Linked DNA regions of Homo sapiens: all the other regions are linked to region 1. Evidence: fine-mapped expression QTL. A gene starts in region 1. Each other region holds a variant in brackets. All regions are shown on one strand. Distances are between the middles of the regions. Region 1 holds the start of UROS (uroporphyrinogen III synthase). Region 2 has its middle 4.5 kb from the start of MMP21. Region 3 overlaps FANK1 (fibronectin type III and ankyrin repeat domains 1).

Region 1 (2,761 bases):
TTTTCTTGTAAATGAACTAGAAAGCCAATGCAGCAATCTAAGCAGAGGCCTGAGATCAGACCTATAAGATCTCTCTGACTGTAAGTGGAGTATAGACTGATTGTAGGGGAACAAAAATGGAGAAAAGAACGCCGGTTAAAAGCTGTTACATTAAATAGTAGTCCAGGCAAGAGATGATAGAGGTGTGGACTACGATGGTCTCAGAATTAGTGCTGAGAAATGTCTGGATAACAGGATTTACTGATGGGCTGGATATAGGATGAGGAAAGGGAGGAATTAAAGTTAAGCCCCAGGTTTTGGGTTAGAGCAGCTGGTGACTTTAGGGGCCATTTATAGAAATGGTGACGATTAAGAGAGGGGCATGAATTATTATACAAATTCTGCTTTGGACAAGTTAAGGCTGAGGTATCTATTTAAACATTCAGTAGGCTGAAGGATCATTCAGTCCTAATTGTTTACTAAACAAATAATAAGTACCTATATTGCCAGGCACTACGGTAGGACCTAGTCTGAAGAAAGGAACACAGTTCTATGAGACTATGAAACCAAAGATTTACCCACGACTTGGTCAGCTGCCCCAGGAGCCAGAAAATACAGCCTAGCTGAGATCTGAAGAAGGAAGGGAAAACTGCAGGATAAAGAAGAGCATTTGAAAAGGCTTCTACGGTAGAACGCGGCAAGAGCCTTCAAGAAACTGAGGGCCCAAGTGAGTGCCGCCCGCAGAGTGAAGAGGAGGACAGCTGCTGCCCCGAGGGGAGAGGGCCCCCTCTGCGAGCCCGGGGTGGCCGATTCAGGATCTGAGGCTTCAGCCTGAGAACTAAAGAGGACGAGAAGAACACACCTGTTGTGGCGGGCTTTTTCGGGGAGGACGCGGGTTGGGAGATTAACTGGACCGGACTAGACCTTTAAAAAATAACTACTATGGCTGCAGTGTGTTAAAGACCGAGGAGAAACCTGAGAAAGAACTTATCTCCAGTTTCTCCTCACAGACCCTCAGGGTCAGGGAAGACCCTACACTATTTTTACACAGCCTGGGCTTGCCAAAAAGTTTTTCTCAGGTATAAACCAACTAGGGGAGCGTGTCCTTCTCACCTCGTCAATGACCTCGTCCTCTTCATCCTTTTCCTTGTCACTGTCATCATCGTCTTCATCCTCATTTTCGACTTCTTTTTCCTCTTCCTCGTCGCGCTGGACTGGGGGATCCGGCGGCTGCGGAACCCCACTTTCCACGGCACGCCGCTTAGACCTGGACGCCATGTTGCCGCTCACACTGCGCCTGCGCAGCTTCCCCTTGCCTGACCTTCCGGACCAGCCCATAGTAGCCAAGGGGGTGAGGAACTACGAAGAAGCTCGGCGCTGAGTGCACGTCAACCCCAATGCCCCTGCTGGATTCCGCAGCCATGACCCCTTACAGTCACGTCCAGCTTGCGGTCCCATCTTGCTTTTTTCTTCCGCTTTCCACCCTCCATCACTCCTCCCAAAGCTTCCCCTCCCCTTCCCGTAGTGGTTCAACCCATCTAACCTCTGGCCTCATTCCGTGGCCTGGATGGCGGTGCGCATGCGCGAGCGCCTAGCTGCGCGCAGCCACCCACGCGACCCCAGTCTGAGGTGCGGGGTCCTGGGGCCCGGCGCGGGTGGCCGCCGCGGCCCCTCGGGCTGCGTGGGGAGGGGGCTTCCGCCCCTGTTGTCATTGCTCCTGCAGCCTTTTCGCTGGGACTGCGCGACACCGCCCCCCGACCGGGTGCCCGCTGTGTGCCAGGCCGGGTGCTGGGCACGGTCCCGCGAGGTAGGTGTCGCCGCCCGCTGTACCGGTACGGACGCCGAAGCCCGCGGGCGTGCAGGGGCCCGGCCCCGGGCGGTGTGTGACACAGTGGGGCCAGGGCCCCGAGGCTTCCGCGGACCTGGGCCTGCCCAGGCGGGGATGTCCGCTGCCGCTACCGCTGCGCCGGTGACGGAAGGCGCCTGCCCAGCCTACCCTCGCCGAGCTTCTGGAGCGCATTTCTTGACCTAAAAGTTTTTTTAAAGCCGGCACCGCAGTTAAAAATGCTTCGGCGGGGGGCCGGGCCCGGTGTCTCGCGCCTGTAATCCCAGCACTTAGGGAGGTCAAAGCGGGTGGATCACCAGAGGTCAGGAGTTCGAGACCAGCCTGGCCAACATGGCAAAACCTCATCTCTGCTAAAAGTACAAAAATTAGCCGGGCGTGGTGGCGGACACCTGTAATCCCAGCACTTTGGGAGGCCGAGATGGGTGGATCACTTGAGGTCAGGAGTTCGAGACCAGCCTGCCCAACATGGCGAAATCCCATCTCTACTAAAAATACAAAAACTAGCCAGGTGTGGTGGTGCGCGCCTGTAGTCCCAGCTACTCAGGAGGCTAAGGCAGGAGAATCGCATGCCCCCAGGAGACGGAGGTTGCAGTGAGCCGAGATCGCGCCACCGCACTCCACACTCCAGCCTGGGCGACAGAGGTAGACCCTATCTAAAAAAAAAAAAAAATGCTTCGGGGCCAGTGGGGTAGTCTAGGTTAAAGACCCGAGCCTATTTGGAGAGAAGAGTGGAGGGGACTGCGGCCAACTGCAGAGCGAGCGCCAGCCCCTGTGGCAGGTGGGGATGCAGCCTGGGGCAGCCAGGTCTTCCCATTGCGAGAGAAACAGGGTTCATCAGCTTTCTAGGAATAAGATCTGCGGTTCTCAATTGATTTTTCTCTGTAAAATGAGGGGGGTGGGTTGGATATGTTTGATTCTAGGAATGGTGTGAGCTGC
Region 2 (2,761 bases), 43 kb after region 1:
GTGTGCCTTGGCAGAGAAGTGCAGGTGGGTAGTGAGCGGGGCCTCCCTCCCGCAACCACTGAGCAGCCTCCATGTGCATCCTTTGCAGGGAGGAACAAGCCCCAAACGCAGACTCTCATGTGTGTAAAACACAAGCAGTTCTCCCCAGGGAGGCCGAGGGTCCTATGCCGGCCCAGAGATGGGGAAAAGGGTTTATTTGTGGATGAAAAGAGACCAAAATGCAGTCTGGAAAGAAGGGAATCAGGACAGACACTGGGAAGGGTCTTTCTGTCTCAGGCACGCTATGCAGCTGGAAACAACAGGCCTGCCCTGGTGCTGATGGCATCACTCCCCAGCACCTGGGCCCCCTGAGCTCTGCTCACTTTCAGAGTCAGAACTGACCCCTCATTGAACATAAGGCTCAAAGATCTCCTGTGGGAATGACTGTTTCCAAATATTATTGTCCAACTATACTAAGAATATGCAAATCCAGGCTGGGTGCAGTGGCTCATGCCTGTAATCCCAACACTTTGGGAGGCCGAGGTGGGCAGATTGCTTGAGCCCAGGAGTTCAAGACCAGCCTGGACAACATGGCAAAACCATACCTCTACAAAAACATACAAAAATTAGCTGGGCACGGTGGCTCACACCTGTAGTCCCAGCTACTTGCGGGAGGCTGAGGTGGGAAGATCACTTGAGCCAGAGAAGTCACGGCTGCAGTTGAGCTGTGACTGTGCCACTGCTCCTCAGCCTGGGTAACAAAGTGAGACCCTATCTCAAAAAAAAAAAAAAAAAAGCAAATCCACTTTGTAAATGATGAATGTTTTAGGGGAAAAAAACTTCAGTTCTCCCGCTGACAATTAGGTTACGCATGTCATGGCTTACAGAGATTGTAGAAGCTCCAAGCCAAAGCCTTGCCCCGCCTCAGGAACGGGAGGTGGTCTGCACAGACCAGGAACCAGTTTGTGCGGGAGCCCCTGTCCCTCATGTTGTCTTTATTGTAGGTCACGTGTCTTCCTCTGACATTTTCCCTCCTAAATCCAATTGATTTCCTTGAAATCCAATTAACCTGGAGTGAGCAATTTGGTTAATCAAACATTCTCAGCCTTGAGCAGCCAGTACATTCCAAAGCTTAGTAATAATCGGAGAGAAGAATCCTCCAAAAGAAGAGCAAACATCCACATGGTGAACATACTTCCCCAAGTCAAGCACCCAAGCTGCA[T/C]GAGGCCACCGCACCATAAAGTTTCTTAAAGAATAATAACTTTAGGGAACAAGACCCTTCAGTAATGAAGCCCTCAAGCCTGTGATCTCTGTCTTAGTCCATTTGTGATGCTATACCAAAACACCTGAGACTGGGTCATTTATAAATAATAAAAATTTTCACAGTTCTGGAGGCTGGCAAGTCCAAGAGCAAGACTTGATGTCTGACGAGGGCCTGGTTTCTGTTGCCAGATGGTGCCTTGAACACTGTGTCCTCATATGGCAGACGGGCAAAGGGCTGAATGCTCTCTGAAGCCTGGCTTCTAAGGGCAGGATGGTAGAGCCTTATGATTCAATCACCTCCTCAAGGCCCCACCTCTTAATACGGTTGCACTGGGGATTAAGTTTCAACATGAATTGTGGAGGGAACACAAACGTTTAAGCCACAGTAATCCCAAAGGGGAATCATCTTACCCCACTGGGGAGAGCTGTCATGCAACTTTTCAGATTTGACTTTCAGAAGCACAGTCTTTGACCAGAGCTGGTGGAATGGACAGAACTGCCAGTCTTCAAACAGAACAAGGATCGTGGTGGGTGCCCAAGCTCCTCCTGAGCACCCCTTCCCAGCATCCCAGGTCCCACCTTTCCCCCACAGCATTCGGTGTGGGCCCAATGAGGAATGGATCCCCTGGGTCACAGTGTAGGACTGTGCCTTCCCCGGAAAGCCCGGTGTCCTAGAGCCCAGGAAAGTGTTCTAGGGTGCGGCACAGTCAGAAAAACAGAGAGGAGTTGATGATAGCCAGAGGGTTTCACCCCAGGAGGCACAGCCTACACCAACCTCAGAACTGCACAGAGGTTCTTTAATAAGTAGCCAGTCCTGGCATTGTCCACTCAAAATGTTCCACCTGAACTTACAGTGAACCCAGACTCCTTATTTGCCCTATGGGTCCTTCCCCATCTGACCTTCACCTGCTCCTCTTCATCCTCCCCTCCCAGCTCACTCCTCCCACTCATGTCCAGCCAGGCTGTTCTTTCTTCCCTACTATTGTAGGTTTGCCCAGCCAGTCCCAGCCTCAGGGCCTGTGCACTTGCCCTTTCCTGGCCTAAAATGTACACCACTCCCGAACCCCCAGTCACATGTGACTGAGTCCCTCTGATCTTTCTGCTACTGCCCAGATTTCATCTGCACAAGAGGTCTTTCCTGCTCACCTGAACATTCACTCTTCCCCATAGACACTCACTTTCCCTAATTCTATTCCTAGCACCTGTCACTATTGGAATTTTTCATTTCTTTTTTGTTTATTGTCTGTCTTCCCTACTTAGGATCTACATTCCATGAGGGTAGGTGTGATGGTTAATACTGAGTGTCCACTTGATTCGATTGAAGGATGTAAAGTATTGATCCTGGGTGTGTCTGTGAGGGTGTTGCCAAAGGAGATTAGCATTTGGGTCAGTGGGCTGGGACAGGCAGACCCACCCTTAATCTGGGTGGGCACCATCTAATCAGCTCCTAGAATACAAAGCAGGCAGAAAAACATGAAAAGACTAGACTGGCTTAGCCTCCCAGCCTGCATCTTTCTCC
Region 3 (2,761 bases), 97 kb before region 1:
CATGTAGTATTTATACAATGGATTACTATTTGGCAATAAAAAGGAATAACTGTTGATACAGTACATGAAAGTAGCCAGACTCAAAGGCTACAGCCTGAACGATTCCATTTGTATAAAATTCTGAAAAAAAAGCAATGCTAGAGGAACACAGATCAGTGATTGCCAGAAGTTTACAATGGAAGGTTTTACTATAAAGGGCAAGGTAATTTTTGGAGTGATCATATAATTTTGTAATCTACCAAAAACAAACATAATACATGGGCAGATAAGTTCACGGATTGGAAAGTTCAATATTGCAAAGGTCTCCCAAAAATGACCTATCAATTTAATCCCAGTGGAAATTCCAACCAGTTTTGTGAAGGCTGCTAAGTCAACTCTAAAATGGCCAAGAATAGACAAGATCACCGGAGAGGAAGCAGGAAGGTGGACACAAATATCTTCTGATTGATGAGTGAAATCATTAGAAGGCCAGCAAAAATACAAGTAAGCCAGAATTTCTAAAGCACCACAAAAGAACACTAGTTAGTAGTGCATATAGGTATCTCCCAAATTTGTTGTAAACATAGGCTTTTAAAAAAAATTAGAAACTGATATTTAGAGATATAAACTCATATTAAACCTTTTAAAAAACAAATTCTAATCAAGGGCCTCACCTAATTTCATAAAAGGTTGTACAGAACCAACCATTGCTGCAAACGATGTGCTGCCCTGAGATGTGAGGATCCCAGTGGTTCCTCTGGGTCAACAGCAGCTACAGCGGCTGAGCCCAAACTCTGATACATTATCTATCTACGATCATTATTTTTAACAATTTATATCAATGCTACCCATAAGTCACAGAGAAGCAGAAATGTTTATGTGGCCTCCTGCCAAAAACAATCACTTGCACTTATTTCTAGTATTCCAGAAGACAGTATTAGAAGTTTTTCAATTTAGAAAAACATTTACAGCAAAGAAAAAAATCTCTGTAAATTTCCTGCTTAACCAATCTAGTGAATTCTGATGAGCCATATAAATTCATTTAGCCACCTTATGAAAGACTTAATCCAAAGTCACTTCTAACTTCTAGAAGAGCTAATGTATTATAATCACAGTTGTGAAAGACTCAAAGGCCAGAAATGTCAAGGTTTGGTCTATATCTTAAGTCCAGAAAAAAAATAAAAGCAACATGTACAGGCCAAATGATTGCCAATTTTTTCGGCCTATGTCATCCTTCTTCACTATAGCCTGAAATTACATTTCATGTTTGACAGTTCTCAGCAAGGAGACAAAACAAGCTTATGAGTAAAATAACAGAAAGCAGAGCCACAGAGAGTACGAGAGACAGGAGTCATCTCCCAAGTCCAAGTTCAACCTCTGTATTATTAGACAGGGCCTCAGTGTCTTTGAACTGCAAGGAATTAATATTGATTGTAGCATGAGTAAAACCTATCTTCTACTCATCATGAAAAGTCACAGTCGTTTTGTTTAAAGACTCCAGAATTACTATAGGCAGAAACAAATAAGAAGGTTACACACCTACTGTTTGGTGAAACGAGGAATCAGGAATGAGCATTCCCAAGAGAATACAATTACAAAAGTAAAATCATCTAGAGTTTTTGGGCTGCTTAGAAAGCCCAGAAAGAAGTGCCAA[A/G]TGAGAAAATAATCAAATTCAGTGGAAAAACTCACTTGAGGGTATCATGGTCAGCTGCGTTTCCACCCCTTTGATGCACTTCAAATCCTGTGTATTCCACAAAGACTTGCTCCTTTCTAAAGGCTAGGGTTCACGTTCAACAGAATAACAGCAACCACCATGAGCCTCAGGGCTGGCTAGTCTTTAGTATTCTGCCTTATTCAAAGAAATGAGTCTTTCCCTCATTCATAAAGATCTCCCAGGTCCATTACAAAAAAAGGAGCAGCAGCCAGGCGCAGTGGCTCACACCTGTAATCCCAGCACTTTGAGAGGCCAAGGGGGGAGGATCACCTGAGGTCGAGAGTTCAAGACCAGCCTGGCCAACATGGTGAAACCCCAACTCTACTAAAAATACAAAAATCAGCCGGGTGTGGTGGTGTGTGCCTGTAATCCCAGCTACTAGCGAGGCTGAGGCAGGAGAATTGCTTGAAACCGGGAAGCGGAGGTTGCAGTGAGCCAAGATCATGCCACTGCGCTCCAGCCTGCGGGACAGAGCAAGACTCTGTCACAAAAAAAAAAAAAAAAAAAAAAAAAAAATTCTTACCTCCTGGAAGTATTTTACTAGTGTTGGTTTCTATTTGACATTAAACACTTCCCCAGGCCAATGCATTAGCAGTTAGCTCCTTACTGAATATTATCTGTAGCAAACAGTAGCTGACTCCTAGCTCTCTTCAGTGAACTTGAATTTAAATTTATAGAATTCTCATGACTTCTATTTCATCTTGAAACCCAGAGACTCCTTCCCTTTCCTAGTGATTTACCTTTCAATTATATGTAGACTGAACCAGTCCCAGCCATCTTTAGTTGGTCTCTATTCAAACGTACTTCTGTTTCTTGATTACATCTTCAATTATTTTAGTTATTTCTGAGATTCTCCCCTGCAATTTCTCCAACTATCTAGGGCATAAAGAGTGCATGAATAACATTATAAAGCCTATGTAAGACTTCAAATAAATAATCTTTCTGAGCCTCAGTTTCCTCATCTGTGAACCAGGAATAATATTTACTGAACAAAGTTGTTCTAAGGATTAGTGAAATATATGTAAAGCACTTAGCATTTAATAGGTGATCAAATGGTAAATGGTGCTT

What was found. PIP is the estimated chance that this variant, and not a neighbour inherited with it, causes the effect.
Region 2: its variant is the best candidate, but not a certain one, in a credible set for the expression of UROS in whole blood (INTERVAL, PIP 0.54).
Region 3: its variant is the best candidate, but not a certain one, in a credible set for the expression of UROS in whole blood (INTERVAL, PIP 0.64).

The regions. Positions count from the first base shown.
Region 1 is chr10:125,822,054-125,824,814 of GRCh38, reverse strand. It overlaps UROS (uroporphyrinogen III synthase), which reads left to right and starts at 1,557. Exons shown (of 10, transcript NM_000375.3): 1 at 1,557-1,786. BCCIP (BRCA2 and CDKN1A interacting protein) reads right to left here and starts at 1,269. Exons shown (of 7, transcript NM_078468.3): 1 at 1,093-1,269. The coding sequence starts at 1,257. RefSeq lists silencers at 505-724, 1,481-1,910 and enhancers at 1,201-1,400, 944-1,629.
Region 2 is chr10:125,778,959-125,781,719 of GRCh38, reverse strand. No RefSeq gene overlaps it. Among named protein-coding and RNA genes, the nearest start is that of MMP21, 4.5 kb to the right of the region's middle. The variant T/C (reference allele first, on the strand shown) is at 1,202.
Region 3 is chr10:125,918,644-125,921,404 of GRCh38, reverse strand. All of the region lies in intron 1 of FANK1 (fibronectin type III and ankyrin repeat domains 1), which reads right to left. Among named protein-coding and RNA genes, the nearest start is that of FANK1, 23 kb to the right of the region's middle. The variant A/G (reference allele first, on the strand shown) is at 1,634.